Linked DNA regions of Homo sapiens. The protein of the gene in region 4 purifies or fractionates together with the protein of the main gene of each other region. This does not show direct contact. Each region holds a gene or a part of one and is shown on either strand. Other genes may lie near its edges.

The links.
Region 1: the proteins of DUSP8 (region 4) and COPZ1 purify together in Homo sapiens (affinity purification with mass spectrometry, with the first as the bait; one large-scale study listed by BioGRID). This does not show direct contact.
Region 2: the proteins of DUSP8 (region 4) and NDUFAF4 purify together in Homo sapiens (affinity purification with mass spectrometry, with the first as the bait; one large-scale study listed by BioGRID). This does not show direct contact.
Region 3: the proteins of DUSP8 (region 4) and PTGES3 purify together in Homo sapiens (affinity purification with mass spectrometry, with the first as the bait; one large-scale study listed by BioGRID). This does not show direct contact.
Region 5: the proteins of DUSP8 (region 4) and SUGT1 purify together in Homo sapiens (affinity purification with mass spectrometry, with the first as the bait; one large-scale study listed by BioGRID). This does not show direct contact.
Region 6: the proteins of DUSP8 (region 4) and FBXO11 purify together in Homo sapiens (affinity purification with mass spectrometry, with the first as the bait; one large-scale study listed by BioGRID). This does not show direct contact.
Region 7: the proteins of DUSP8 (region 4) and OXR1 purify together in Homo sapiens (affinity purification with mass spectrometry, with the first as the bait; one large-scale study listed by BioGRID). This does not show direct contact.

Annotation. Positions count from the first base shown.
Region 1 is NC_000012.12:54,345,577-54,349,966, forward strand, and holds part of COPZ1 (coatomer subunit zeta-1), read left to right. Parts: intron 1-2,190; coding exon 2,191-2,268; intron 2,269-2,423; coding exon 2,424-2,475; intron 2,476-4,043; coding exon 4,044-4,082; intron 4,083-4,390. UniProt on the Homo sapiens protein: The coatomer is a cytosolic protein complex that binds to dilysine motifs and reversibly associates with Golgi non-clathrin-coated vesicles, which further mediate biosynthetic protein transport from the ER, via the Golgi up to the trans Golgi network.
Region 2 is NC_000006.12:96,891,429-96,895,356, reverse strand, and holds part of NDUFAF4 (NADH dehydrogenase [ubiquinone] 1 alpha subcomplex assembly factor 4), read left to right. Parts: intron 1-3,928. UniProt on the Homo sapiens protein: Involved in the assembly of mitochondrial NADH:ubiquinone oxidoreductase complex (complex I). May be involved in cell proliferation and survival of hormone-dependent tumor cells. May be a regulator of breast tumor cell invasion.
Region 3 is NC_000012.12:56,667,451-56,671,840, reverse strand, and holds part of PTGES3 (prostaglandin E synthase 3), read left to right. Parts: coding exon 1-92; intron 93-1,476; coding exon 1,477-1,566; intron 1,567-4,390. UniProt on the Homo sapiens protein: Cytosolic prostaglandin synthase that catalyzes the oxidoreduction of prostaglandin endoperoxide H2 (PGH2) to prostaglandin E2 (PGE2).
Region 4 is NC_000011.10:1,558,069-1,562,458, reverse strand, and holds part of DUSP8 (dual specificity protein phosphatase 8), read left to right. Parts: intron 1-3,403; coding exon 3,404-3,570; intron 3,571-4,187; coding exon 4,188-4,347; intron 4,348-4,390. UniProt on the Homo sapiens protein: Has phosphatase activity with synthetic phosphatase substrates and negatively regulates mitogen-activated protein kinase activity, presumably by catalysing their dephosphorylation.
Region 5 is NC_000013.11:52,676,512-52,680,901, reverse strand, and holds part of SUGT1 (protein SGT1 homolog), read right to left. Parts: intron 929-4,390; coding exon 747-928; intron 1-746. UniProt on the Homo sapiens protein: May play a role in ubiquitination and subsequent proteasomal degradation of target proteins.
Region 6 is NC_000002.12:47,825,914-47,830,303, reverse strand, and holds part of FBXO11 (F-box only protein 11), read left to right. Parts: intron 1-4,390. UniProt on the Homo sapiens protein: Substrate recognition component of a SCF (SKP1-CUL1-F-box protein) E3 ubiquitin-protein ligase complex which mediates the ubiquitination and subsequent proteasomal degradation of target proteins, such as DTL/CDT2, BCL6, SNAI1 and PRDM1/BLIMP1.
Region 7 is NC_000008.11:106,734,938-106,739,327, forward strand, and holds part of OXR1 (oxidation resistance protein 1), read left to right. Parts: intron 1-2,582; coding exon 2,583-2,663; intron 2,664-4,390. UniProt on the Homo sapiens protein: May be involved in protection from oxidative damage.

The DNA.
Region 1 (4,390 bases), on a different chromosome or scaffold from region 4:
TTTCTTTTTGGGAGATAAAGTAACCATTCTTCAGGCCCAGGGATTGTAGGGGATTGGCAAAGGCTCCAGGGAGTTGATTTAGTTTTAGAAGTTGGGTTTTGCCGGGCTCAGTGGCTCACGTTCGTAATCCCAGTACTTTGGGAGGCCAAGGCGGGCGGATCATGAGGTCAGGAGATTGAGACCATCCTGGTTAACATGGGGAAACCCTGTCTCCACTAAAAATACAAAAAATTAGCCGGGCATGGTAGCGGGCGCCTGTAGTCCCAGGTGCTTGGGAGGCTGAGGCAGGCGAATGGCATGAACCTGGGAGGCGGAGCTTGCAGTGAGCCGAGATCGCGCCACTGCACTCCAGCCTTGGCGACAGAGTGAGACTCTGTCTCAAAAAAAAAAAAAAAAGTTGGGTTTATTAATTCACAGTAATTCATGCTACTGGGGAGGACTGGATGGAGAGTATGTCCCTCCCATAGAATAATTCTCTTACTAAGTAAGGGGACTGGGAGGGAGCCGAATCTTTACCTCTGTGTTTACTCTTGTAATCCCCTGTGGTCCTGTCAGATCTGAGCATCCTCAAGGTGCTTTCCTGGGCTTCATTCTTGACATTAGAAGTAGGGAAAGGCCAAGCATAAGGAAGTGTCCCAGATGAAATGTCATTCAGTACTTCAGGAATGGAAGCAACACTCCCAATTTTTTTTTCTTTTTTTTTTTTTTTGAGATGGAGTCTCACTCTGTCACCCAGGCTGGAGTGCAGTGGCGTGATCTCGGCTCACTGCAACCTCTGCCTCCCAGGTTCAAGCGATTCTCCTGCCTCAGCCTCCCGAGTAGAGTAGCTGCAATTATAGGCACGTGCCACCACGCCTGGCTAATTTTTGTATTTTTAGTGGAGACAGGGTTTTACCATGTTGGCCAGGCTGGTCTTGAACTCCTGACCTCAAATGATCCACCTACCTTGGCCTCCCAAAGTGCTGGGATTATAGGCATGAGCCACTTAGACCAGTTTTTTTTTGACTTCTAGTCCTTGTTTTTTCCCTTCTGTAGAACAGGAAGCACCCAGGCAGGAGGACTGCATGAGTCGAGTTCAAGACAAGCTTGGGCAACACAGTGAGACCCTGTCTCTGCAAAAAATAAAAAAATTAGCCAGGTGTGGTGGTGCATACCTGTAGTCTCAGCTACTTGGGAGGCTGAGGTAGGAAGATTGCTTGAGCCCAGGAGGTTGAGGCTGCAGTGAGCTGTGATCATGCTACTGCACTCCAGCCTAGGTGACATAGCAAGACCCTGTCTCAAAAAACAAAACAAAACAAAAAACAGGAAGCTTCTGCCATTTACCCTCTCCTCCCTTTCCACCTTCCCACTAGCCCTCTGTTCTCTGTTACCCGTGTAGATGGGTAATAGAAGAGATATAAGTTACTTTTCCTGAAAACATCCAGGGCTCTGAACTTCATTCCCCCAGCAGCTCCCAAGTGAACCCAGTACAGACAGCCATCCAGACCAGAACAGCAGGCACTCTCAGCCCTGCAAAATCAGCAGGGTGAATGGCTCAGATTTCCTCAGGAAGGGGATGATTTATTTCTTATCCAGGTGAATGAATAGTAATTCATTCGGGTAATCTAGTGAAAGACTCAAACTGACAGATGTGACAGGCCACATGCACCAACCAACGGATCTGAGGCTGGTGTATGCAGACCCTGCCCCCTCTTTGGGCTTCTTTTCAGGGCCTGAGCAGAGCTGGTAAGGGATAGGGAGAAGAGGGAACAGAGAATGTCTCAGGAGGTTTGTCAGAGCTTGAGTACAAATAAGGTTTGCATTGAACCCCTCTCACCTCCGGCCACCTCCAGACTGAGTCTTAGCTCTGTTTATATTGTTTTTTTCCACCCACTGATGTCAGTGTTTATGAGCAATGTTATGAGCAGCATCATGGCAGGTAGGAAAGAAATAATAGCGTGGATAATCAACCCCTGAATAGTCAGAAATTGACTGTGTTATTTGAATCTCTTTCCATACATTCCTTATTCAGCAAACGAGTAGAAAGGGGTTTTGAGTGAACTAGCTAAAAAGTTCTTCACCTTATTTACTTCTTTGTGTGGTTGGTGGAGATGTTTATTGGTCTAGTTTAGGTTCCTCAATTGAGACAAGGTCCTAGGATTTCTTTCACATACAAGTTGGTTATTCTCTTCTCTTCTCTTGGGGACTCAGGAAAAATGTAGAAAAGCGAGCACTGCTGGAGAACATGGAGGGGCTGTTCTTGGCTGTGGATGAAATTGTAGATGGAGGGTAAGTTCTCTGACCTGCCTTGATCTTGGGTGAGGTGGCGGGATAACTGCCCCTGTCCTAAGTCAAGCAGGCTCAGTGGCCAGAGGTCCTGTTCCCCGACAGTGAGTTGGGCCTTCGGGACAGAGTGAACAATGATCTCTTCTTTGTTTTTGCAGGGTGATCCTAGAGAGTGATCCCCAGCAGGTGGTACACCGGGTGGCATTAAGGGTAAGCAAGAATGTGTTTCTTTGCATCCCCGCATCTATTCACAAACACCCTCCAGAGCCAGACCTGCTGGATGTGTCCAGTAGTTGGGGCTCATAGGATACATACAACCTTCTCTTTTTCTTTCAAATACATTCAGCCTTTCTCTTCCCTTCTCTTCTTATTGTCCCAAAGAAAGAAGCAGAAATAACTTATTTCTACCCCTAATATGGTGCCTAACATCTCATACAGTCTTTGCACAAAGTGGACATTTAATACATACTTATTTAATAAATGATAAAATAAACTTTAATATTTATGGTTTTGAAATTATAAAGCAACTTGAAGTTGGCTTATTCCCTTCTTGGAGATGGATCCAGTCATCTGAGGCAGAGGAGTGTCTGTTTTGTCTTTTAAAGTGTTACATAGGACTGAGCGTGGTGGCTCACACCTGTAATCCCAGCACTTTGGGAAGCCGAGGCTGGCGGATCACAAGGTCAGGAGTTCGAGACCAGCCTGACCAACATGGTGAAACCCTGTCTCTACTAAAGACACAAAAATTAGCTGGGCATGGTGGTGCGTGCCTGTGATCCCAGCTACTCAGGAGGCTAAGGCAGGAGAATTGCTTGAGCCCGGGAGGTGGAGGTTGCAGTGAGCCGAGATTGCACCACTGCACTCCAGCCTGGGCGACAGAGTGAGACTCTGTCTCAAAAAAAATAAATAAATAAAATAATAATAATAAAGTGTTACATAACTGAGGATGGTACCTCTCCATTAGGAAGTACTTATTTGCCAGAACCTCAGTCCTCTTTGGTGCTGGTGATATCAGAAAGGGGCCTCTGAGTTAACCATAGAAGGCCCCAGGTCAGCTGAGGAGATAATGGTGGATGCAGAGAGAGCCCACCAACAAATTATACGGGTGCAAAGATGTCTGAGCAAAGCAAATCTCCCCATTCACAGAATGTCCTGGCTCTGACCTCCACAGAGTGAAGGCTGACAGTGCTTGGTAATGGGAAATCTCTCTTAACTGCTGTGGGCTCCATTTGCATAGTTTAATCTTCTCCTCTAACATATGTCTCTGTGTGGCAAGAGAGAGGGTCCCCCCCATCAACTCCCCGCTTTGTCTTCTTAGGCTGCTGTTGCAGCAGTTTATTTCTTCAAATTAACATGCTGTCGTTACCCATCAGGCTTTGCGGGATCCATTAAACCACTCCTGGCTCCCCCTCATCCTTTCCCTAGTGATACTGATATTCAGAAAAGGCCTTTTCTGACTAGGGAATCAGGTCCTCCACCCCCACGTTAAGGGAGTTGAGGATCAGATAACCTGCTGGTTACTCTGAATGGAGTTAAATCTTTTAAGAAGTCCTCCTGCCTTAAAATGGAAGCTGGATGAAATGACCCTTTTTTGTTCATAGTCCCTCTGGCCAAGTAAAATTGTAGCTGTACTAGTCCCTAGAAGGGACTGAGAAGTTCAGTGCATCTGCCCTTTGTTTCAGTTTAAAGGATCACTTTTTTCTTCTCTAATACCAGACTCCAATCAGGTCTTACTCCAGCTTTCTCCCACACTAAATGCTTGTATCTCTGTGCCATAGGGTGAAGATGTCCCCCTTACGGAGCAGACCGTGTCTCAGGTATGACTCTCCCTTCTTCCTTTCCAGATGGACTGGGTCACTAAAGAGGCTAGAACAGCATTCCACCCATACCTCTCAAATCTGAGTGAAACTAGAGACTCAAGACACATCTTCCTTGGCTCCCTCTTATTCCAGAGAACTGGGACTCATACAGCCAGCCACTCCCTACCCCTACTTCCAACTCCTTTCTCAGTTACCTGTGAGCAGTGGCTGTCAGCCTTGCTCTGTACCCTTCAAACCCTCCCTGCCTGCCTGATGCCTCATTCAGTGATTTATTCCCCAGCAGAGGCTTGCCTTAAGCAGATGGT
Region 2 (3,928 bases), on a different chromosome or scaffold from region 4:
AAATAATTTATTTGTTGTCTGACTTTTTAACATATTTATTCAAAATTCTGTCAAATATTTCAGTCTTTTTGCCTTTTGTGGTAAAGGAATACTGGGCCCACTCTACCATCATATAAACTCTTCTGTATTTTCTTCCAGTAGTTTTATAACTACATTTTATATTAAAATCTTTATCTGGCATTAAATGTGGTCTTTGATGTGTGGAATAGATCAGTTGAACCTCTTTTCAAACAGATGGCTTGTTGTGTAAATATAATTTGTTGAAGAGCCCAGACCTTTCTCCACTTACTTAAAATGCATCTCTAGATACACATATGGGTCTATTTATGGACTCATCAGTTTTACTTATTTTTCTATTTATACACTAGAACCATAGTTTTAATTAATAGAGCTTTATAATGTGTGTTGATATTTCTTATAGTCTTCTCTCATTCTTTTAAAAAGTTTCTGGTCTCTTTTCACACATTAATATTTTTCCAGATGAATTTGAGAATGAAATTGTCAGGTTCTTTAATAAGTCCTATTTGGATTTTGAGTATAATTGAATGGGAATTTATGGATTAATTTGAGGAGAATTAACATTTTAATTATTAAGTCTTTGAGTGGTAAAGGGAACGTTGTTACTGTGATGGGAGCTTTTTTCACTTTAAATTTAAACTGTTTATTGCTGCTACAGTAGTCTTCCCTAATCAGCAGATAGGTTCCAAGACCCTCAGTAGATGCCTGAAACTGAGCGTAGTACTGAACCCTATATATACTGCTTTTTCCTATAAATATATACTATGATAAAGTTTAATTAACAACTAATAAAATGGAACAGTTACAACAATTTCAGGGTTCGAAGATTCATTCTTATTATCCATGTTAGCACTCTCGCCATATGATTTTTTTTCCTCATTAAGTCAATAACTTTTACCTTTTCACTTGAAGGAAGCACTTTATGGCTTCTCTTTGGCATAACTGAGTTGCCAGCATCACTACCCTTGTGCTTTGGGGCTATTCTTGGTAAAGTAAGGGTTACTTGGACACAAGCACAGTGATGCCACACAGTCTGATAACCAGAATGGCTACTAAGTGACTAACAGGCAGGTAGCCTGTACAGCATGGATACACTGGACAAAGGGAGGATTCACATCCTAGACAGGATGGAATGGATAGCGTAAGAATTCATTATGCTGCTCAGAATGGTTTGCAGTTTGAACCTTATGGATTGTTTACTTCTGGAGTTTTTCATTTAATATTTTTGGTCTGTAGTTGACTTCAGGTAACTGTAGATAAAGCCAGGTACTACTATATATCAGAAAGTGAGTGGTTTTTATAGTGTAGCTACCCACATTGCTAGGTTATTATTTCTGTTAGGTTTTCAGTTGATTCTCTTTTCTAAAGATATATCTATGTAGAATTAAAAACTTCTCTTTCTAGTATTTTTACTTCATTCTTTTATTGTGTTGTATACATTAACATGCCAGTGAAAGTAGGCATTCTCATCTGTTCCTTCCTTCCACAGGATGTCTCAAGTGTTTCAGCATTAATTATAATAGAATGATACTTGTTTTCGATTAAAAAATACTTATATCACGTTTGGGACATTTTCTTCTATTTTTAATTTCCTAAGGGTTTTTTTTTTTTCAGTCGAGAGGATTTTGAATCTTCTTAGATTTTTTTGTGTCAAATAATTATTTATTTTAGTATTGACTATTAATTAGAAAGGAAATCTGAATACAGATGTGCTTGGAGTGGAAGGAAGATCTACCTTACCTGGGAATAGGAAAATAGCTTTGAGATTTGGAAAGTGAAAAAGTTGAGAAGAGTGTTTCAGGCCTAGTTTGCAATATAAAGATACAAGAGTGTGTGATGCCTTTGAAGAATGGTTAGAGTTCACTGCAGTTATGAGAAAATGTGAAATGTGAATTTGGGAGAAGTGAGTTGGGATGGAGAGTGATAGGGGTCAGATCGTAAAGGCCCTTATTTTTCTTGCTAAGGAGTTTTGTTTTATTCTGAAGACAATGGGAAGTCATTAAAGAGTTAATGGTCAAAAGTGATGTTAGATTTGAAAGTAGCCTGGCGGGGGAACAAAGTGCATTTTATCTAATTAGAAGAGACCAAATAGGAGGTATTTGCAGTCATTTCTGCAAGAGACATTGGCTTGGACTAGGGTGATTTAGTAGTATGGGGGAGATGTGAGTGAGTTTGAGAGAGACATATGATGCAGTGTCAACAGGATTTGGTCATTGATTGGTGTAATGAGTAAGGGAGAGGGAGGTGCAAGTATAATCTCATTTTTGGCATGAGAGGTAGGTAGTGTTGGTCATTGAAATTGAGGATATGGGAGTAGAACTGGTGATAGGTTTAGTTTCAGATAATATTGAATTTGAGGAGCATGTAGGTCATTTAAGTGGAGATACCTGTTAAGCATTTGGGTTGGGAAATCAAGAAAAGGTCTTGGTTTACGATCACAGCTTTGGAAGTAATTAACTTGTAGGCAGTAATGGAAGTTAGAGGAGTGTGTGGGATTACTTTGGAAGAATGTGTAGAGTGAGAAGAAGGCCTGGGCACTCTTAAATGTCACACACTGACATTTAAGGGTAAGCAAAAGGAAAAGGGTCCATGAATAAAACCCCGAAGGACCCACTGAAAAAACCGATGGAAAACTGTGAGGGGGTGGCATGGAAACCAAGGGGGAAGATAGTTATAAGTACATTGGAGTGGTCAGCAGTGTCAGATGTAGTGAGATACTATAGTGAGTTCAAATGAGGTCTAAAAAGTGTCCTCTGAATTAAGCAACTAGGCAGTCATTAGAGATAGCAAGCATTATTTCTTTTAAACATTACCTGAAGAGAAGGAAACTGGTCATAAAAGAGGTGTTGGTTTTGGGTTTGGTGGGCATGTTAAAAAACATAGTAACTATAGCATTTCTATATTTGACCAAAAAGCAGCAGTAGGCACAGTGCAGTAAAAAAAGGAAAAGAAAAGAAAGAATGATAGGCATAGCTAGGAAACAAGAATGGAATGCAGAGCACACGTGCTGGGATTAAGCTGGGATGGGACAGATAGATGGAAGGATGGGTGTGCATAGGTTGTTTTATTTATACTGGAGTGTATTGGAGGCGTTAGTTTATTTTCTCGGGAGAAAGATCACTAGCAATATTTCAATTCATTCAAGGTGTTTGGGAGTACTGAGTATGAAATACAAAGCTGGGAAACAGAATAGATGTTATCAAGCCAGCTGTTAGGGTGGCATCAGAATCCTGCCCTTTTAAAACAGGTGCAGTTTTTAATAAATTATTTTCATTGTTCTTTTAAAACACGTGAAATAATGTGGTGAGTGGATGGTATACATTTGATTATTATTTTCTAGAGATGCCTACATTTCTTAATGATAGAGCTATAGTTATGAAAAGGCAATGTGGCAAAAGTACTATTAAACTATGGCTCATTATAATAAGAAAATGAAGTTTGGAAAATCGTATATAGAATTTGTGTTAATCCATTCTTGCACTGATGTAAAGAAATACATGAGACTGGGTAGTTTATAAAGAAAAGATGTTTAATTGGCTCACGATTCTGCAGGCCATACAGGAAGGATAGCAGCTTCTGCTTCTGGGGAGGCCTCAGGAAACTTATAATCATGGTGGAATGGGAAGCAGGCACGGCTTATATTGCCAGAGCAAGCAGAAGCGGGGTGTGGGGGAGGTGCTACACACTTTTAAACAACCATATCTGGTGAGAACTCTATCACGAGAATAGCACCAAAGAGGGAAATCCACTCCCATGATCTAGTCACTTTCCACCATGCCCTACGTCCAACTTTGGGGACTACAATTTGGTGACATGAGATTTGGGTGGGGACACAGATCCAAACCATATTAGTTGTTATTTGAAGAGGAATAGTGTAGATTTGAGAAGTATGAAAGTAGATGTCAAATCT
Region 3 (4,390 bases), on a different chromosome or scaffold from region 4:
AGCATAAAAGAACGGACAGATCAATTTTATGTTGTTTACGAAAAGGAGAATCTGGCCAGTCATGGCCAAGGTTAACAAAAGAAAGGGCAAAGGTAGGTTTCATTTTCCTTTTTTGAAAAGTTTGATATTTTTATTTTAGGTAATAAAAGATGTACTTATTTGATGTAAGGAATATGGCTGTGTTTTTGTTTCACAGCTAAGTATAAAGCCTCATGTTCATGTTTTTTGTCTACTCAGTTTTAATACGAAGTGTGATCAGAATATCAGTTATTAACTGGTGTAGAATCTTTTGTACTTAAGAGACAGACTTTGCATAAATTACTCAGCTATCACATGGGAGGGGACAAAGCTTGGTGAAAAAATAATCAACTGAAAATAGTTCTTACTAGTAAATTTGTTTTCAAAAGGTATGTTTAACAATTTTCAGTGTTTTTTTTCCCCCAAAACAGGGTCTCTCTTTGTCACCCAGGCTGGAGTGCAGTGGCACGATCTTGGCTCACTGCAGCCTCAGTTTCCCAGGCTCCAAGTGATCCTCCCTCCTCAGTCCCCCAAGTAGCTGGGACTGTAGGGGCATGCCACAACACCTGGCTAATTTTTGTATTTTTTGTAGAAAGGGGTATCACAGTGTTGCCCAGCTTGGTCTTGAACTTCTGGGCTCAAGCAGTCTCCCCACCTCAGCCTCCCAAAGTGCTGGGACTACAGGCATGAGCCACGACACCAGCCTAGTCTTTTTTTTTAGGTAGTCTCATGCCACTCATGCCAGAGTGCACTGGTGTGAACATGGCTCACTGTAGCCTCCACCTGGGCTTAAGCGATCCTCCCACCCACCTCACCTCTCCAAATAGCTAGGATTGTAGGAATGTGCCACCACGCCCAGGAAATTTGTTTTTTTGTTTTTTCCCCAGATACAGGATCCACTATTGCTCAGGCTGTCTCGAACTCCTGAAGGATTACACAACTAGTCTTTCCACCTTGGCCACCCAAAGTGTTGGGGTTACAGGTGTGAGCCACCTCATTTAGCTTAGTCTATTCTTTGTGTGCTAATTACATGCCCTCCTAAAAATACAAAGTCACAGTTCAAAAAATATTGTTTTGCCAGGCACCAGTAGCATGTGCCTGTTGTAGTTAAAAGCTACTCTGGAGGGTGAAGTGGGAGAAATACTTGCGCCCAAGTCTGGGTTGCATTGCCATATGTCAGGTAACCACGCTAAGTTAACATCAGTACGGTGTTGTCCCAGGAAGCGGGGACCACCAGGTTGCCTGAAGAGGGTAAACAAGACCCTTGGTCAGAAACGGAGCTGGTCAAAACTCACATATTGATCAATAGTGGGATTGCACCTGTGAATGCTTGCTGCACTCCAGCCTGGGCAACATAGCAAGACCTGGTCTCTTTAGAAGAAAAGAAAACGTAGTCTTAAGGTTCATGCCAAATGCAAATTAGCCTAATCTTAGGGTGATATTTGTATTGATTTATAGCTTAATTGGCTTAGTGTCGACTTCAATAATTGGAAAGACTGGGAAGATGATTCAGATGAAGACATGTCTAATTTTGATCGTTTCTCTGAGGTAAGTTCCTTTAAATGGACCTCTCCCCATTCGAAGCACACGGTACCTGTCTATGTAGTCAATTTAATATGGTTTTGGGCACCTAATGGTATTCATGATGCATGTTATTTTATTTTTAAGACCATTTTGCAGTCATAGTAAATAGATGTTAACAATGGCAATTTTAATCCTGAAGTTGAACCATTTTAATGATTTTAAAAGGAATTAGTGTTAGCTACAAAAGTTACAAAAGTTAATGCATTAAGACAAACTAACACAGCTAGTTTGCTAATTTCATCATTGGGACTTTTTTTTTTTTTTTTTTTAAAGCATGATTGCAGTAGTTGACTTGGATTTTGAAGTCATAAAATAAGACTATAAACTTTTGGCCGGGCACGGTGCTCACACCTGTAATCCCAGCACTTTGGGAGGCCAAGGCTGGCAGATCACGAGGTCAGGAGATCTAGATCATACGGGCCAACTTGGTGAAACCTCATCTCTACTAAAATACAAAAAAAATTAGCTGGGCATGGTGGCGCGCACCTGTGGTCCCACCTACTCCTGAGGCTGAAACGGGAATTGCTTGAACGCTGGAGGCAGAGGATGCAGTGAGCCGAGATCGTGCCACTGGACTCCAGCCTGGCGAAAGAGCGGGACTCGGTCAAATAAATAAATAAATGCAGAACGATAAACTGTTAAACACAAGAATCATAGGCTGGGCGCGGTGGCTCACGCCTGTAATCCCAGCACTTTGGGAGGCTGAGATGGGCGGATCACCTGAGGTCAGGAGTTCAAGACCAGCCTGACCAACATGGTGAAACCCCGTCTCTACTAAAATACAAAAATTAGCCGGGTGCAGTGGCGGGCGCCTGTAATCTCAGCTACTCAGAAGGCTGAGGCAGGAGAATCGCGTGAACCCAGAAGGCGTGAACAAAATTAGCTGGGCGTAGTGGTGCATGCCTGTGATTCCAGCTACTCGGGAGGCCGAGGCAGGAAAATCACTTGAACCCGGGAGGTGGAGGTTGCGGTGAGCCGAGATCGCTATTGCACTCCAGTCTGGGCAACAAGAGCAAAACGCCGTCTCTAAATTAATAAATAATTAAATAAAACTACAAAAAAATAGCTAGGCGTGGTAGTGCACGCCTGTAATCCCAGCTACTCCGGAGGCTAAGGCAGGAGAATTGCTTGAACCCAGGAGGTAGAGGTTGCAGTGAGCCGAGATCACACCACTGCACTCCAGCCTGGGCGACAGAGCAAGACTCTGTCTCCAAAAAAAAAAAAAAAAAAATTCATGGTGAAATGTTTACCATGAGATATACAAGGAAAAAAGTTTAAGAAAGTCTGTTTTCTAAGATGTCACCCAAATAACGTTGCCATGGCCCAAGAATAAATGATTCATCTCTATATAGGCAGAATAGACTTTATCAAATGTAGTAGAATAAAACTAAGTACAGAAAGAACATTAGTGTATAAGTCGAATGCATACTGATGAAATCCATTTCTTGTTGCTATTTGAAATTTTTCATTAACTAGATTTTGTATTTTGAGACCTTAAGAGTTAAATAAAAGGAGCTAAGTTTCCAGCTTTATGCAACTGCTTATTTAACAGTTCTCCACACGTGACTCTGGCATGGTGATTTCAACAGGAAGGGAGGATGTTCTATTCATATTATTTTTTAATTGTACTTTCCTTACCTGTAGAAATCGGTGCCACCATTTACCTAGCTGTGCAAGCCATTGTGTTGCTTAGGCAGGTCTTGAACTCCTGAGCTCAAGTGATCCTCCTGCCTCAGCTTCCCAAAGTGCTGGGACTACAGGCCTGAGCCACCACCCCCAGCCTTATAACACTGTTTTTGTTTTTTGTTTTTTGTTTTATTTTGCTATCTTTGTTGTCCAGTTTTTGTTGTTATCTCTTACATATCTCTTGAATATGTACAGTTTTCTCTTGCTGTTTATCTTAAGCACGTAGCGTTATGCTTGGTACATTTAGCATTTTTCCTGCCCAAAGAAACTTAAAGTATTGAGTAGTGCTTTTGGAGGTAGGGAAACTCCCAGTTACTCATTTCATTCAAGATAGATTGCCCAAAATTTTTATACTGAATCCTTTTTTGTGTGTGTTTAATTAATTGAGGTAAGAGCACTTCACATGAAATCTACTCTTTTAACAGACTATTTATTTATTTTTTTGAGGCAGAGTTTTGCTCTTGTTGCCCAGGATGTAGTGCAATGGCACGATCTTGGCTCACTCCAGCCTCCACCTCCTGGGTTCAAGCAATTCTCCTGCCTCAGCCTCCCAAGTAGCTGGGATTACGGGTGCCCACCACCATGCCCGGCTAATTTTTGTATTTTTAGTGGAGACAGGGTTTCACCATGTTGGGCAGGCTAGCCTCGAACTCCTGACCTCAGGTGATCCACCCGCCTTGGCCTCCCAAAGTTCTGGGATTACAGGCATGAGTCACCAGACCTGGCCACGCCCAGCTATCTTTTAAGTGCATGATACAGTATTGTTAACTATAGGCATAATGCTGTACAGTAGTAGGTCTCTGGAACTATGCATTTTGTGTAATTGGAATTTGATACCTATTTAACAGTAGCAACTCTGCATTTTCCTTCCCCCCAGCTCCTGGCATCTACCATTCTACTCTCTATTTTTGTGTGTCTGACTATCTTAGGTATCTTACATAATCTTAGGTATCTCATATAAGTGGAATCATGCAGTATTTGTCCTGTGACTGGCTTATTTCACATAGCATGACGTGCTTCAGATTCTTCATTGTGTTTTGTCACATAAGGCAGATTTTTTTCTTTAAGGCTGAATGATACTTTTAGGCTGAACACATTCCAT
Region 4 (4,390 bases):
CCTGTTCCCCTAGGTCCAGTTTGAGGACTGAACTGGTGGGGGGCGGGGAGAGAGTAGTTTGGGGCTTTTTACAGCTCACCAGGTGTAACAGGACCCCTCCCAAAGGCCAGTTTGCTGCCCTAGCCAGGAATGGGAGTCAGGAGACTCTTCTTGGAGGCTGAGAAAGGTCCCAGAGTGGCACCTCCCTACCTGCAGGCAGATCCCAGGAAAGTCCCAAGCCTGGAAGGGCCTGTCTCCCTCGAGGCCAGAGTGGGACGGTTTGGGGGGCTGGGGCCCTCACCCAGCACTGGTGGGTGGGACAGCATGGGTGTGCAGGTGGGCGTGGATGAGTATGGGCATGGGAGGGGCCGGGCCTGTGCTAGGATTTGCCAGGAGGGCACTCCCAGGGCCTGGTCATGCCACCCTCAGAACTGCCTTTCTGTGCTGACATCTGCCCTGCAAGGTTGAGGCTGTGTCCCCTTTTCTCCAGAAGTGCAGCTGCCAAGGAGTCCCAGGCCCCGTGGTATACAGTGGGCTCATGGCGACACCCAGGCAGGCCCACGGGCTCTGCCCTCAGGCTCCCTCCCACCCTGTGGTGGGCACAGCCCCTGCTCTGGGCTGGCTCTGCGAAGAACCAGGGAGAGTGGGAAAGAATATATTGGGGGGGGCAGGGGTGCTGCCCCTCACCCAGGAGAAGGGATGTTCCAGGATCCCGCGGCACAGGCAACACAGCTCCTTGGTCCATTTGCAGGGACAGTAGAGGCCGGAATGTGAGGACCAAGCCTCTGTCCTCCCCACAGCAGGGCAGGTTTGCGGGAAGCGGGAGAGAAACAGTGGCAGGACAGGCTGTGCTGGGGTCCCAGGACTGCTGTGAAGCCCACCTCCCCCTGCCGCTCCTCTTCCCCCACTCCAGCTGCGCTGCTCACGATGTTGGGGGGCAAGCGGCAAGGGATGAGAGAGGGGCCTGGCCCTTTAAGCAGCGGCCCGCAGTCGGCCTTGGACCCTTGGCCGGGCGACTGCACTGCAAGTGGGTGGGGTGGCGGCCCCCGCCCTGGCGGGGAGTCCAGGGGTCATGGAGGTGGCGGGCAGAAGTGCGTCTGTGACTGTGGCCATAAGCGCTTGCAGGGTCTCCCAGGTGGCATGGGGCAGGCACATGTCCTGGTACACACGCCTTTTTTCAAGTCTGGGATTTCACTGTGAGTAACAGGTGAACTGCAGGCGCTGCCCCAGAAACCCCCGAGTCAGGGAGCAGGGATACTGGGAAGGCGCCTTTGGAGATGCCTGGGGGTAGGGGTGCCTCCCCAGGGCCCAAAGAGTGCTGGGACCTACAAAGGGTCCACTGAACCCCAACACCCCTCACTTATCACTCACCCCCAGAGCCTGGGTGGTTCTGAAATCCCTGGAGCCTCGGTCCCTGCTAGGCCTGGCATCCACAGTGGGGTGTGTAGGGACATCCACACTACCTGCTCCGCCTGGGGAGGTCCTGGGAAGCTTCCTGGGGAATTGCTGACATAGCTGTCGGTTCTCTGCACCTGTCCAGAGACTTTCCTGCCTTTACCTCCTCTGGGAGAGGTGGGAGGGTACTGATGGAATCCCCAGCACCTCCTCCTTTGGCCAGGCCCTGGAGAAAGCAGAGAGTAAGGCACAAAATCCCTGGGAGAGCCACAGGGAGGAGGAGAGGCAGCAGGTGGCAGAAGAGTCTGCAGAGAAGTGGTGCAGCCCTTCCGCCTCCCCGGGGCTGTCCTGCAGCGGGAACATCCAGGGCTACCCCAGCTCAGAACAGTGAGTGGAAGCCAGCTACAGTGCCCATCCCAGCCTCTGCTCAGGGGAACCTGCAAGCTGGGGCGTCGTTGGTGACAAGTCACCTACCTGCTTTCCCCTGTCCAGTCAGCAGGTTCCCACAGAAGAGACTGTTCCTCCAAGGCTGCTGCCTCAACCCACCCAGCCTGGAGCTTCCCCTATCTCCACAGTCCCCCAGCGTCACGCCCTTTTTAGGGACACGGGGAGCTGGCACAGCAGGTGTTCTGGTTGGGGGTTTGCACACACTCCCCTGTCCTCAGGAGTTATCCAGGGTGGCTCTACTCCACCCAGCAGGGGAGAATGGAGAGAGGAGGAGCCCTAGGCACTGGGGGCACGCGGGGCAGGCAGTGGGCACCTGCTACACATGTGGCACCAGCCTCTTCTGCAAACCAGGACAAAAAAGAGCCCTGGGGTTCCCAGGCCCTGAGCTCCCGCCGTCACTCCCCTGCCCCGTCCAATGGGATAGGGCAGGCCTCAGCCCAGCTGCCTCAGGCTCTGCACAAGCAGGAGCCGGCTTGCCATGGGGGCTTATGTTCTGGAAGGTGTCCTCGGGGTGGTGCTGGGCCATGCTGGCTTCACCCTCCCAAGAGCTGGCAGCCACCAGGTGGGTGCTGCCCAGTTTCTGGTCCACATCGGTGGTCGCCCCAGCCAGGTCAGGGACGGCCAGGTCCATTCTCACCATGTGTCTTCGTGCTCATTATCTTCTTGGAACCACATGATGCTGTGTGGCAGGCAGGAGGAGGAAGCTGAGACCAGAGCCATGGTGTGCACTACCCATGGTCACTGAGTCAGACATCCAGGGATTCACGTTCGGGTCCTTCCAGCTGGTGCAGGGCAGGGGACTTCCTCCCACCAGCCTGTGGCCTCGGACTTGGACGTGTGTGGAAGGCAGCAGCACACGCTGGTCACGTGTGCAGCGGGTGCCCACTGCCTGCTCTGCGTGCCCCCAGTGCCCCGGGCTTCTCCACTCTCCGTCCTCCCCTGCTGGGTGGAGTACAGCCATAACCAGACAGCAAATGCCCCGAGGGCTGTGCCAGGGTGATGTCATGCCTGGGGACGGGGAGGGCCTCTCGGAAGCCCTGGCCTCCTGGTCCTGGCACCCAAGCCCAGGCCTGGGGCTCCCAGCCAGCTGGAGGCAGGGAGGCATTGCATCAGTGCAGGGGAGGAGGAAGGCCCAGCCTGGCCCCAGGCCATGGGTATGGGAGATGGCCGGGCTCGTGAGGGCCTCTCCTCTGGGCTGTGTGACACACACCCTCAGCAGGAGACCCCTGTGGCCTCTGAGCCCACCCCTGCCTGGGCCCAGCGCGTGCCGTGATGGCCAGCCACCTCAACGCCACCTTTACGGGCATCCTAGCGGCGTCCTCAGCTGGGTCAGCCCCTAATTAGCATGAGGAGGAATGTGGGCGTAGGTGCAGGCTGTAAATGTGTGGCAGTACCCCCTCCCCCCACCGCGGGCAGAGCAGGTGCTCCGCCAGAGGCTTGCCGGCTGGGCTCAGGCTCGGGTCTGGGCTGGGTGTGACTGATCCTCAGCAGTAGATGGGGTGCCCTAGGCGGACAGGGCACCCTAGGCGGACAGGGAGCCCTAGGTGTTCTCTCAACCCACTTGACGGCCCTCCTCCTACAGGGGGCTTCGCCACCTTCTCCTCCTGCTTCCCCGGCCTCTGCGAGGGCAAGCCTGCTGCCCTGCTACCCATGAGCCTCTCCCAGCCCTGCCTGCCTGTGCCCAGCGTGGGCCTGACCCGCATCCTGCCTCACCTCTACCTGGGCTCGCAGAAGGACGTCCTAAACAAGGTGTGTGTGCAGTGGAGTTCGGGGGGTGGTCAATGGGAAAGGGGCAGGAGCTCCAGAAGCAGCTTGGCAGCGGAGCGGGGGATGAGGGAGGAAAGGAGCTGAAGGCAGTGGATGAGCTGGGTGTGGGAGAAGCATGGGTGGGGGCCCAGGAGGACCCCAGGCTCCCCACCCATGCCCCTGGAAGGACCACAGCAGGGCTTGCGGGAGGGCCCGGCAGGGCTCGGGGGAGGAGCGGGGAGCTGGCATGCCAAGCTGCGGATGTCACTGGGCCTCTGGCCAGCTCTGAAAGAATCCCATGTTTTAAAAATGGTGACGAGGGAAAAGGGTAAAAGCCACCACCCAGGCAATCATAAAATTCCTAGGAGCCCACCACCAGCCGTGGGTGGGGCCTGCAGTCGGAGGCCAGCCGTGCCCCACCCCCCGCACGGGCCCAGGGTGCCAGGGTGGACCAGAGAGGCCTCCTGGGCCCTCCCCTGGATACACTGGGATCTGGGACAAATTCCAAGGCTCCCAGGATTCTAAAGGCCCTCCTGACGGCAGGGCAGGAAAAGCCTCCACCTTCACTCCCGCCCCGAGCTTCTCCCACCCCTTTCCAACCCGCCCTCCCGCCCCTCCAGGATCTGATGACGCAAAATGGAATAAGCTACGTCCTCAACGCCAGCAACTCCTGCCCCAAGCCTGACTTCATCTGCGAGAGCCGCTTCATGCGGGTCCCCATCAACGACAACTACTGTGAAAAACTGCTGCCCTGGCTGGACAAGTCCATCGAGTTCATCGGTGAGTCTGCGGTGGGCGGAGGGCAGGGACCTGGCTAGAGGAA
Region 5 (4,390 bases), on a different chromosome or scaffold from region 4:
CCACTGTACTCAAGCCTGGGCAACAGAGTGAGACCTTGTCTCTAAATAAATAAACTGTGAAAAGCACAATCATGACCAATTACCACAGATTTCTTAAGTGTGAAATACCTAAGCCTCAACCACATTAACTAAATATTAAATTAAAATACTAATTTTAACTTTCTACTGTAAATATGTCTTAAAAGAGTCATATTTCCAGAGCTACTGGTATTAATAAAAGTCACATGATTACAACTGCAAGCTAAATATACAATGACGAATTATTACTAAAATTTTGAGGTCTAATTTAGGTATTTATGCTGCCCTGACAAAAAGCCTGAATTTTCTTAATCAAGAGAGTTGTTAAACCAATGAATAACGTGCACCTTCTACTTGCAAACACTATTCTGAAAAGTTTCGTATCTATATTCTTCATCTCTAACACTGAGGCTACATATGAGTCTAGAAGGGAAACAACAGAAGTTCACTCAGCTACTGGGATAAATCCAAGTGAGATGACTCCATATCAATCTAACTCACTGATAAAAAATACCTATTTAAGATAAACCACTTGTTTCTCATCTCTTCCATAAGTTTTCAACTTCCTCAAAAATTACTCTTAGAGCAAAAAGAAACGTTCAGACAGACCTTATTCAAAAAGTTCTCCCAGCTATAGTACACGCAATTTGGTCTCACATTACCAATTTTCTCGTTTAAAATATGTAAAATTTGCTCCCATATATATTTCTTTAAGTTTATATTCTTACAAAGGATTTGTTCATGGCACGTTTCACTTCATCAGAACCATCTGAATAGATCTGCTGAAATAATCTGTTTAAAGCTGCATCTCCCTCCAACTTTTCATTCTTTTCTTCTTCTTTGATCTCACCAACCAATTTATCCCAATTTCTTGTATAAGGAGATGATGATGGATATAGGTTCTTTACATCTATGAAGTAAAAAAAGGCAGAAGTAATTAATCAACATGTTTCAATTATGTCGAGAATATGTAAACTTTGTGACCATGTATATGGAACATCTTAGCAAACAGTTTAGGTTACTGAATTTCAGGTATGCAATAAGTGTCTTTCTGGTATATAGGTCAATAACAAAATTCACATTTCTAAAAACTGAGTCAGTTACCATAATGTAAAATCTGGGGATTTCTTTTGAGCAAAATAACTCAATAAAGTGTAAACTTTTGATATGCTATACAAAATTAGATTAAAAGCAGATTCTTCATGTTGATAACAGAAACTAGATGAAAAGTATACAGAACTTTTATGTTTTCAGAAAAGTTGCAGAGACAGTACGAACAATTCTAAAAATGAAATTTTTTAAAGGATGCCTAAGAAATCTTTTGTAACTAAGATTTTAATAAATGTTAAAAATGTGACTTTTTCTAAAGTACTTAGTATCTTTCAGAGTATAAATAGCCTGAAAATATAAATAATCATCCATGCCACTCCATACTCTCCCATCAAAAAAGTAAGATTATTTTAATAGGCAATAACAGTAAGTAATTTCTAAATGTTTAAAGTACTACACTTGATGATCTAAAGTTCAATGCCCACATCCCATACACCTAGCAAATAATAGTATTTGTAGGGCACACTGGAGTAAACAGAGCTGCTTGCAGCGAGAGAGGCTACTGGCCCAGGGGCTCGGGGTACTGCCAAGATTGCTCCAAAGACCAAAGGCATCAAGATCTTGGCACACAAATAATTAGAAAATAACTAGACAACCTAGTAGCTATAGGAGCAGCTCTGTTGACTATCCAATGAAAATATAATGACAGCCTCAAATGTGAGTCACATATATAATTTAAAACTTCCTAGTAACTACATTACTAAAAAGAATCAGGTGAAATGCAGTTTAATAATACATTTTATTTAACCTGATATATCAAATATAGTATCATATTGACTTGAAACCAACAGAGGCCGGGCATGGGGGCTCACACCTATAATCCCAGCACTTTGGGAGGCCAAGTAGGAGGATTGCTTGAGGCCAGAAGTGTGAGACCAGCCTGGGCAACATAGTGAGAGCCCATCTCTATGAAAAAAAAATAATAATAATTAGCTGGGCGTGGTGGCACATGCCTGCAGTACCAGCTACTCGGAAGGTTGGGGTAGAGGACTGCTTGAGTCCAGGAGGTTGAGGCTACACTGAGCCATGACAGTGCCACTGCATTCCAGCCTGGGTGACACAGCAAGACTCTCTCTTAAAAAAAAAAAAAAACCAACAAAAAAAATGAAGATATTTTATATTCTTTTTTTCATACTAACTCTTCAAACTGTAGCATATATTTCACATAGCACATCATCTCAATGCAGACTAGTCATATTTCAAGTGCTCAACAGGTAACATGTGGCTAGCAGCTACTGTGTTGGACAAAAGAGCTACAGTTTTCAAAAAACCCAATTCAAAATTTCCCCATCAGTATGTATTAGGACACATTAGTACTAATCTAAATGTTCCTCCCAATACTGCTCTCTACATCCCTTTTGTCAAAATAGCTGAGAAACTAACATCCACTGTTTTTCTACGCTTTCTCTTCACTTGTAAACCGACTTTCTCCCTGCCCATTCCTCCTCAAAACAAAACAACACACACAACACCAACACATAGTTTTTTTTCAGGGCCAAATATATTGTTTTGAAAATCCTATCCACCTTCCTTCTACTAGATATCCTTCTATCTTTGTACATTTTCACTAGTAGCCAGGTAAAACAAAAAATGCGTGCCATGGTAAGTTAAGAGCCTGGGAAATATGGATTTAATTAATCCTAATGCTGACTCCCAGGAAGGATGAGAACAGAGGTTTTAATCTCTATTTTGTAGATAAGCAAGCTGGGTCAGATAGGTTAAGTGACTTGCCCTTATCTACAGTCTCCAGCTTGCAATACACAGGAATCTGACAAGTATATTAATTTCTTACAAAAACAGGACAGGAAGAGTATCATCTTGAATATCTAAGGTGTTGAGTTTAGAAAAAACATGGTAACTGTAACACTAAAAAGCCTTGATCTTTAATCTCAGAAAAACTTTTAACACCTGGAGATGGCAGATGAACTACTGAGAGATGAGTAATCTAACCTCCCTGCTCATTCACTATAATATCAAATAACTACTAGATACTCATGTCGGCAAAGACTGTTTCCATTGTTAGAAAATGCAACAACAAGCAGTATGCAACAAGTAGACAACGGGTTAACAGAATAACTGGACCCAACTGAGAAGACCTAGATTTTAGTCCTAGACAATGAGAACTGAGGGATAATCTTGAGCTTAACTTTTCTGAGCCTGCAAAATGGGAGGAATACTAAGGGGCTGCCTGTTATGCAGGGCTGTTAGAATTAAGTAAGATACTACATTTAAAGTGATTATATATTTTTTAAAGCTTTCAGCTACATATAAACCTCAGCCTCAAAATCTATTGGAGTCAGTCCTAAAAGAAACACATACATCTTTCAAATAAAGTGTGAAGCAGATGCTTAAATACCTTAAATACCAACTAGATATACTTCAGTCCTTAAAAAGTATCTGTTGGTGTTAATACCCTGATTTTGAAAATTATACCACAGACTACTTAAGAGGTAATCATTGGACTAGTTAAGACACTATCAATGGGGGAAACTGGGTGAAAGCTATATGAGAATCTCTTATTTTTGAAATTTCTAAACATCCAAAATTATTTCTTAAGAAATAACTATACACACACACACAAACACACACACAAATGATCTGTTGAATAACTCAGTGTTTTCTAAAAGGTGCCACAAGGAAATGTGTTTTCTGTTACAGAAGAAAGCAGTCAAAATCAGAAAAAGCTGAGACACATGTTAGCTTGTTTCAGTCATTAAATCAGACCATTACTTCCAATAAAAAGAAATTTCCCTCCACTCATTAATGAAGCTATTGCTATAAAATATAATCTTAGGTTGTAGTTCTGAGTGTGCTGTGAATTTGTCCACTAGAAAAATTCTTACCTAGTTATTGCACATACTTAAAATTGACCTCAACACAAAGTTCTGTTTCTTACAGGGTTATATATACAATGAAGCCTGGTTTTCTACTCTTCTCCTAGACTTTCCTTTGGCATTTACCACCTATTTGCGTCCATCTCTAAATTAGCAATAAGAAATGGGGTAGATACCTTACCCTGTAAAGCCCTGCAAATTCCAGGCAATTAGATGACAGTATCAGTAGAAGGAACAGAAAGGAATTAAGAAAGGGAGAGGGAAGAAGGGGAAATATATCCGCCGAGTAAACCAACTTACAACCCAAAAAGAAACAACAGGAAGGGCCAACACGCAAAACTAAACACCCTCCAACTGATGTCATAAACTTTACATGGTAAACAATAAATCCCAACTCCCTCTAGGATTTTGCTGCCATTCATTTGTAT
Region 6 (4,390 bases), on a different chromosome or scaffold from region 4:
TGAGTTTCTTTCTTTCCCTCACGATTCTGTAGACATTTTTCTATTGTAGCATTGAGCATGGCTGAGAACTCTGAGATCACATTGGGTTTTTTTCTTTCTTCTTTGCTTGAAAGATTGCTCTTCTACCTCAGTATCCATATTTTGGCTTTTGCTGATGTATTGTTTTACTATTTTTCTGTTCCATATGTTCCTTTCTTTAGAAACTTAGCTATCTTTCTGGTTATTTATATTGCTATGTTCTGTTCTGTTTAGTGTTGTGTGAGTTCCTCAAATCTGTGTTCCTTACCATGTCTCCGTGGTTTTGTTTTTCTGCTGCTATTTTGCTTCCAGTGTGGGTGTTGCCTTTAATTTTTACATTTTTTTAATGAAATATTTCTAACGTACACTGAAGTAGAGAGAATAGTGTAATGACTCTCCAGGTACCTATTGTCTGCCTTCAACAACTATCATTTCATGGCCAATTTTGTTTAATGTATACCTCATACGTTTTACTACCTTTTTTACACTCTGGATTATTTTGAAGTAAATACCAGACTTCATCATCTCTTGTAAATATTTTACCATGTGTCTTTAAAAGATGGGTGTTTTTTTTTTCTTTCACATAACCACAGTGCTAATCCACTCCTCAATAATTAGGAATAATTCCTTAATATCATCAAATTTTCTCTTAATGTTCACAGTTCTCCAATTGTCTTTTGTTTGTTTAATACTCAGTTCAGTGCAGAGTTGTTACTTTTGTAAAATAAGATTAAAATGTCATAGCAGGCCAGGTGTGGTGGCTCATGCCTATAATCCTAGCACTTTGGGAGGCCGAGCAGGCAGATCACCTGAGGTCAGGAATTCGAGAACAGCCTGGCCAACATGGTGAAACCCTGTCTCTACTAGAAATACATAAATTAGCCGGGTGTGTTGGTGCACGCCTCAAGTCCCAGCTACTCGAGAGGCTAAGGCAAGAGAATCGCTTGAATCCAGGAGGCAGAGGTTGCAGTGAGCCGAGATCGCGCCACTGCACTCCAGCCTGGGCGACAGAGCAAGACTCTGTCTCAAAAAATAAATAAATAAATAAATAAAATGTCATAGCAGTGCCAAATAACTATAAAATTTTTTGAGGCCGGGTGCAGTGGGTCACGCCTGTAATCCTAACACTTTGGGAGGACAAGGTAGGCAGATCCCTTGAGCCCAGGAGTTCAAGACCAGCCTGGCCAACACTGCGAAACACTGCCTCGTGGTGGCGTGTGCCTGTAATCCCAGCCTCTCAGGAGGTTGAGGCATGAGAATCACTTGAAGTGGGGAGGTGGGAGGTGGAGGTTGCAGTGACCCAAGATCATGCCACTGCACTCCAGCCTGGGCGACAGAGGAGTGAGACTCTGTCAAAAAAATAAAAAAATTCATGGCATATTCATGCCATTAGATTTCATCACTTTAGTTAGAAGATAATAATAAGCTAAGCTTATTATAGCCTTTAGTTACTTGGGGACAACTACACTTCATTGAAAGTCTAAGGTACTAACATTGGTTAGTTCCCAGCACCCTCCTCTTTCTTACCCAGATTTCACAGTATTTGGTAAGTGTTTTTATAGATTAGAGTTGTGGAAGTTTATTTCTATGAAGATAGCATTTTTCTCTCTTTTTTAATCTGGAGAGTTTCTTGTGAAACTCTTGAATGCCTTTTATTTTGTCTTTTTTTTTTTTTTGAGACAAGAGTCTCACTCTGTCACCCAGGCTGGAGTGCAGTGGTGCAATCGCGGCTCACTGCAACCTCCACCTTCCAGGCTTCAAGCAATTCTTGTGTCTCAGTCTCCCGAGTAGGTGGGAGTACAGATGCCTGCCAGCACGCACAGCTAACTTTTGTGTTTTTAGTACAGACAGGGTTTTACCATGTTGGCCAGGCTGGTCTAGAACTCCTGACTTCAAGAGCTCCACCGCGCCTGGCCTACTTTGTCATATTTAATAAAGAATGTTTTACTTCAAAAAATTTATACATGTTGGAACTTTTGTGGTTTGCATTAAAAGACAAAGCAGAGGCTGGGCACAGTGGCTCACACCTGTAATCCCAGCACTTCGGGAGGTTGAGGCAGGAGGACTGCATGAACCCAGGAGTTCAAGATCAACCTGAGCAAGACAGACCCTATCTCTACTAAAGAAATATTCTAAAAATTAGCTGGGCATGGTGGCACACGCCTATAATCCTAGCTACTTGGAAGGCTGAGGCAAGAGGATTGATTGAGCCCAGAAGTTCAAGGTTGTAATGACCTGTGATAGCTCCAGCTTGGGTGACAGGGAGATTCCCGTCTTCTTAAAAAATTTTTTTCAGCCGGGCTTGGTAGCTCTGTAATCGCAGCACTTTGGGAGGCTGAGGCAGGTGGATCACTTGAGGCCAGGAGTTCGAGACCAGCCTGGCTAACTTGGCAAAACCCCGTCTCTACTAAAAATACAATAATTAGCTGGGCATGGTGGCACCCACCTGTAATCCCAGCTACTTTGGAGGCTGAGGCACGAAAATTGCTTGAACCTGGGATTTGGAGGTTGCAATGAACCAAGATCATACCACTGCGCTCCAGCCTAGGAGACAGTGAAACTCCACCTCAAAAAAAAAAAAAAATCTAATTTCTTACAGTTCTGTATTATTGATTTATTTTGTACTAGAGGTATTGCTTAACAAAATAGTTGCATTCTATTAAAATACGTCTTGAAGCAGGCCGGGTTCAGTGGCTCATGCCTATAATCCCAGCACTTCGGGAAGCCGAGGCGAGCAGATCACTTGAGGTCAGGAGTTCCAGACCATCCTGGCCAACATAGTGAAACCCCATCTCTACTAAAAATACAAAAATTAGCTGGGCGTGGTGGCTCACACCAAAAGTCCCAGCTCCTCGGGAGGCTGAGGCAGGAGAATCACTTGAACCCAGGAGGTAGAGGTTGCAGTGAGCCGAAAGTGCGCCACTGCGCTCCAGCCTGGGCGACAGACACTCTGTCTCAAAAACAAAAACAAACAAACAAAAAAATCTTGAAGCAAAATTACATTAACTGAATCCATAATAAAAATAAGTTTTCTTGCAAAATTATAAAACTATAAGTCAATCAATCTTTGTCATTTCTAAAGGTAGTAAAATCATTGTTGTGCCAATGTAGAGGCTTCTCATTTTAAGGTCGTTGAGAAAAGAAAACTTTTTGCTGCTTTATTTTCTTGAAAGTTACTCTGAAACAAAAGATACAGATTATAAACTCCATATTTGATGGAATTAGGTGACATATTTAATCCTTAACCTAATTTATTAATACAATGTGGTAAATGACTGCATGCCTGTGACCAGGGCAGCCAACCAGATTGGAGCAGGTTAAAGCTCCAATAAAGCTGTTCAGAAAGATAAATTGGTAAACCTAATGTAAATGTAAATGTATTAAGAGGTGATTTATAGGAGATGATGCAGGAGAATCGCTTGAACTTGGGAGGCAGAGGTTGCAGTGAGCCAAGATTGGGCCACTGCACTCCATCCTGGGCAACAGAGTGAGACTCTGTGTCAAAAAAATAAATAAAAAGAAGAGGTGATTTGGACAACTAGCAACAAGTTTAGGATAGAGTTGTCACTAGAAAGCTAAGCAAAGGAGAAAAAAATCCAAAAAATTGTGCAGCAAAGAAGTCATATTTTATGGCTCAACTCTGAATAGCACACTAATCTAACCAAAATTAAGGTTAAACTACACTGAAAGGATACAATGTGTGAGTATATATTGTGGGGGATAGAGAGGTAGGAGAGCTAAATTCTGCTGTCCCATAATAGAAGTCAGTGGATAATACCTAAAACTGGAAAGTGAAGACTAAGTACAGTGAGTTACTTAATAAAATAGATGTGAATCAAAAGAATCAGCTAAAAGAATTAAAAGTGGGGCCCTCTGGATAAAGGAAATGAGGGAGAGGGCTGCTATTTGCCTTAAAAAACTTGTGGATCAGCTGGGCGCGGTGGCTCACACCTGTAATCCCAGCACTTTGGGAGGCCGAGGCGGGTGGATCACGAGGTTAGGAGATCGAGACCATCCTGGCTGACATGGTGAAACCCTGTCTCTACTAAAAATACAAAAAATTAGCTGGGCATGGTGGCGGCACCTGTAGTCCCAGCTACTCGGGAGGCTAAGGCAGGAGAATGGCGTGAACCCGGGACATGGAGGTTGCAGTGAGCCGAGATCGTGCCACTGCACTCAAGCCTGGGTGACAAAGTGAGACTCCGTCTCAAAAAAAACCAAAAAAACTTGTGGATGTACTTGAGTCTCTTAACTCTGTAAAATCAAAACCTAAAGAAAACAAAAAGATTATCCCTTGCATTTGAATACTGTTTAGTCAGTGTATATCAATTTTTTTTTACTGTATCACTGCATTCAGAGGTATCAAATTTTG
Region 7 (4,390 bases), on a different chromosome or scaffold from region 4:
GGTTTTCTCAACTGTTTACTCCTAATAATTCAGAGCGTGATAAGGGATATTTTGGAGAAATGTATTCATTTTTTATTTAGGTTTAATCTTTTGGGTAAAGTAATAAATTGTATACATGGAGTATGGTTTACCAAGGGTTTAAAATTAATGTAAGAGTAATTCCAGTTTCCTCATATATACTGGGAATATATAGCTCTTTTATCCCTTTATTTTGAGAGAAGGAAGTATATTTCTGTACTCAAATTCAAATCTCTTTTTTCTATTAACTCACAGACTTTTTTTTTTTTCTTACAGTTTTCTGTATCCTCACCCATCAGGGCATGAGTAAATGTTTAAGGTTAAGGAAGCAGAAAGTTTTTAAGTCCTAGAAAAAAATATAATTGAAAAAAATAAATTTGAAAGAGTAGATTTGTGACATGAAAGAAACTATGACTTTATCAAGTGTTATTAAGATAAGCTTAGCCTTATGGCGATTTATTGTTCTCTTATTAGTAACTCCTACTCTCAGCAATGCTGATACAATTAGGTTATGACTGATCTCTTTTGTAAGCATAATTTAATTTCACTTCCACCCAGGAAGTGTTTTTCTTATAGTAAATGAAGGAGTTTTAGAATATAGATATAAGATAATTGTTAACTGGAGGGATAGAAGGAAAGCAGAGAATTAGATAAGTTATTTTTGACAATCCTTGTCTAGGAGACTATTGGATTGAAGGCCATGAAAAAAGAAAGAAAAATATAATTGGCCATTAAATATTTCTAGAGACCTGTTTTGCTGGGCATAGAAAAGCAAGCCCATGATGTTTTTTATTTTTAGTACCTAATTTTTCTTTTATCTTTATTGAAATCCTATTGTTCTTAATTGAAAGTCCTTCATTATTTTTATCTAATACTGAAATATAAAAATTAAATTCAGAATAATCAAAATGTTAAAAATAGTTGAGATGTCAAACCTGAAATATTCTCATTCAAAAATAAAAACCAAAAATTAATAAGGAGGCTCTTTGGCCATTATCATTTAGTCTCCAGGGTAATTGGTGAAAAGTAATCAAGTAAAAGTCATATGAATAATAGTAGTTCTCATTAATATGTTCTGGGCACTATACTCAGTCCTTAATATGCATTTCCTCAGTAATTCACATAAAACCAGATTTGATATGCACTTTTACTATTTTCATTGTTTTATAACAAAATTGATAGGCAATGGGGAACCCAGGTTTATCTGACACCCCCCCCCATCCGCCCCCAGAGCTAGAGAGAATAACAGCTTCTGGTTTCTAAGTACAGAGTCAGCTAACATATTGTATGCTTTGTTGCTTCACAAAATTCAATATAATAATAATGGCCAGAATGGAAATCTGTCCAGCCTCTTTTCCTTTTTTCTATTCTCATGTCTTTCAGAACTTTCAACAAGTTTACATAGCTTTTCATAGTTACCTTAATGTTTACTGGTAGCCAGTTCCTTTTAGTTGGCTAAATAAAAAGCCTTTAAAACCTAGGTTCAAAATCTAAACTCTTTATGAGCCAGTTGGATTAACTCATTTTGTGGTCAGAGCCTCTGTGCATTTTTGATTGATTACAAGAGGAACTAGTCATAGCTCAAGAGAATCGTCACATATTTATCACACCATTAGCGTTCACTGTAGTATGGTAACTGTTTTTAGAATTATGTCATGATCTGAAAAAGCTGTAACTATTATGTCAACCTGAGGAAACTTACCTGTTTTTGTGGGCTTTCTGTAATAGTGTTTATCTGTCATTTATGGCTTTCAAATTTAATACTGTGCAAGAGCCTGGTCTAGGCAATTATAGAAGATAGAAAGTTTTCCTTTGAAAGTTAAAATGTAGGAAAGTTGTTAAATTTTAGTCACAAATAAATGATACAGTAAAAACCATAAAGAAATAAAACAGGAGAGAGGCAAAAAGTGGAAAAAAAAAGTCATTTAAAGGGCTGAAGCAGACATACTTAGAAGGTACTTTTGATTAGACATACTTTTGAAAATCTAATTTTCTACTTTCTAGAGCTTATTTTTCTTATTGCCATAGGTTTTAAAATGTACTTCTATATTGTTTTCTTGCTCTTCTCTCCTCTGTTGTTTCTGTTATAGATGGGTATGTTTGTCACCTGTGCCTAGAAGAAATTCTTCCAGCATGGCCATTAGGATATAATGTTTGAGCTCACCTGATTTGGAGGGGGTAGTTGAAACTACCACTTCCTTTGTAACTGCAAGACCGTTTAGTTTTCAGACGTTATCTTTAATGTTAGCAAAGTATGTGTTTTATATAGTGTTTTCTGTATAAAAAACTATAATTTCTATTTACTAAGTTGAATCTATATGGAATAGTCCATAAAATAAACCTTACATACCAACTAGTTGGATGTAGTAGTGAAAATCATTCATGGATATTTCACTCTAGTTTGATATATAAATCTCTTGGATTTTCAACATAGAGTGGGGAAGAAATCCTAATTACAGTTCTCTTCCCATTTTAATTTCTCCTCTTTTTTTTTTTTTTTTTTTTTTTTTTGCTGTTTTTCTCAACTGTCAGTGGAATTATTGTCTTCCTGTCTCCATATTTAGGTAGTGTCAGTGGCTGAGTATCACCGCAGGATCGATGCTCTAAATACTGAAGAACTGCGCACACTCTGCAGACGCCTCCAGGTGCCCCCTTCAGTAGTTTAAACCCCTCCAGAGACTAAATACTCCCTGTTTTTAGTGTTCTTTGTCATGGCAAATCTCATTTGAAGAATTTGCTTTGACTGCAGCACTAAAATTAAATTCCTTTTTGTATTAAAGGTTATAGTATTGCCGTGAAGAGCTGTGGATTATCTTTTCTGTCATCTTTTCATTTGAAAAATATTCTGAAGAATGTTCTGTCACTTCAGAATTATTCTCAGTATTGTGTGTTTCTTTCAGCGATGAGGAGTTTTCATTCATTTAACGTTGGAAGAATGGTGTTGGTTTTGAGATTGAATCTTTTCTAAACAAAATCTGAAAGATATGGTACTATAGGAAAACTAATAAAAAATTTAATAGCAAGGCTTAAATATTTTATTTAAGGCTATTTCATTTATATCAGCGTCACATCAAATATCTCAATAGGATAAACTGTTCTTGAGGCATTCTTGGTTGGTATTAGGAGTACATTGGAATAGTACAGTTTAGACACAGAACTGGATAAATTACTTAAAATTCTGTGAAATAATCTTTGTGATTTTTTTTTTAGAAACAAGAAAGCAATGTAATTGAAAACTCATTTTTAAGTTGTGTCTATTATACTGTGTTTCTTTCTTCTTAATAAGATATGCTTTCATGGCTCTGCTAGACCTGAATTTTTTCTTTTAATGCTTCTAATGCTGCCTTGGGTTTCTTTTTCTTTTTCTTTTTACCTTTCACATCATCAAAATAAGGGTGAAACATGATGATATGAAAGAATGAGTATTTAGCTTCTTGTCAAAAAACAATACACTTATAGAACATGTATTGGTTGCAAATATATGCTGCTCAGGTTTGTTAAGAAACCTGTTAAAGGAACAAAATAATTTAGCAAGAATTTCATTCCCATATAGAATCACAGTTGCTGAGCGTTGCTGCATTTTAGTTATCTGCTCCAATAGAATTCTGCATATTTTCCAATTTAAAAGTTTCATAATGTTTCATTTCTTTTATTTTCTAATATTATTATGTTTTATATATTAAAATAAAATTAATATTAAAAAGTAAGCACCAATAGAATATATTGTGCAGTAGTAAGCTTTATTTTTACTTAGTTAACATTCTTATCGTTTTAAGAATACCAGTGAAATCATTTCCACCAAGCAAAAAAGCATGTATTCTTTGTAATGCAACACATTAATCTAATTTAAAAAATAAATTTATGAACAAATTAACAGTAAAATTTATTGTTTGGTCCAAGTAGATGAAAAAAATTAAATGTTTAGAAAGTTATAAAAAGAAAGCATTTAAAAAAATGGTAACGTTTGTCAGTGAAACAAATACATGCACAACTCACAGAAAATAGTTATTTTTTTTTATTCTACTATTCTTTACATTAAAATTTTGGCACCCAGGAAGTTTTGTTCATTATTTTTGACAAATTTTGTGTTAGCATGAAAGAATTCTATTTTAAATAGCATACACACACACACACACACACACACACACACACACACACACACACAGCGCAAGCCAGCTAGCTGACTTTTGCCCTTCAAGGGCTTAATTAAAGATGCATGCAACTATCTTCTTTACACAGAAATATGGGGATTTATCATTCCTACCAGTCGTTCCTCATGTAGTGGATGAGAAAACGTCTGCTTATATTGTTATAAAATCTTTTCCTACATTGGCTACATCATAGATATTAGATATGGGCCATCTTTTGCCCT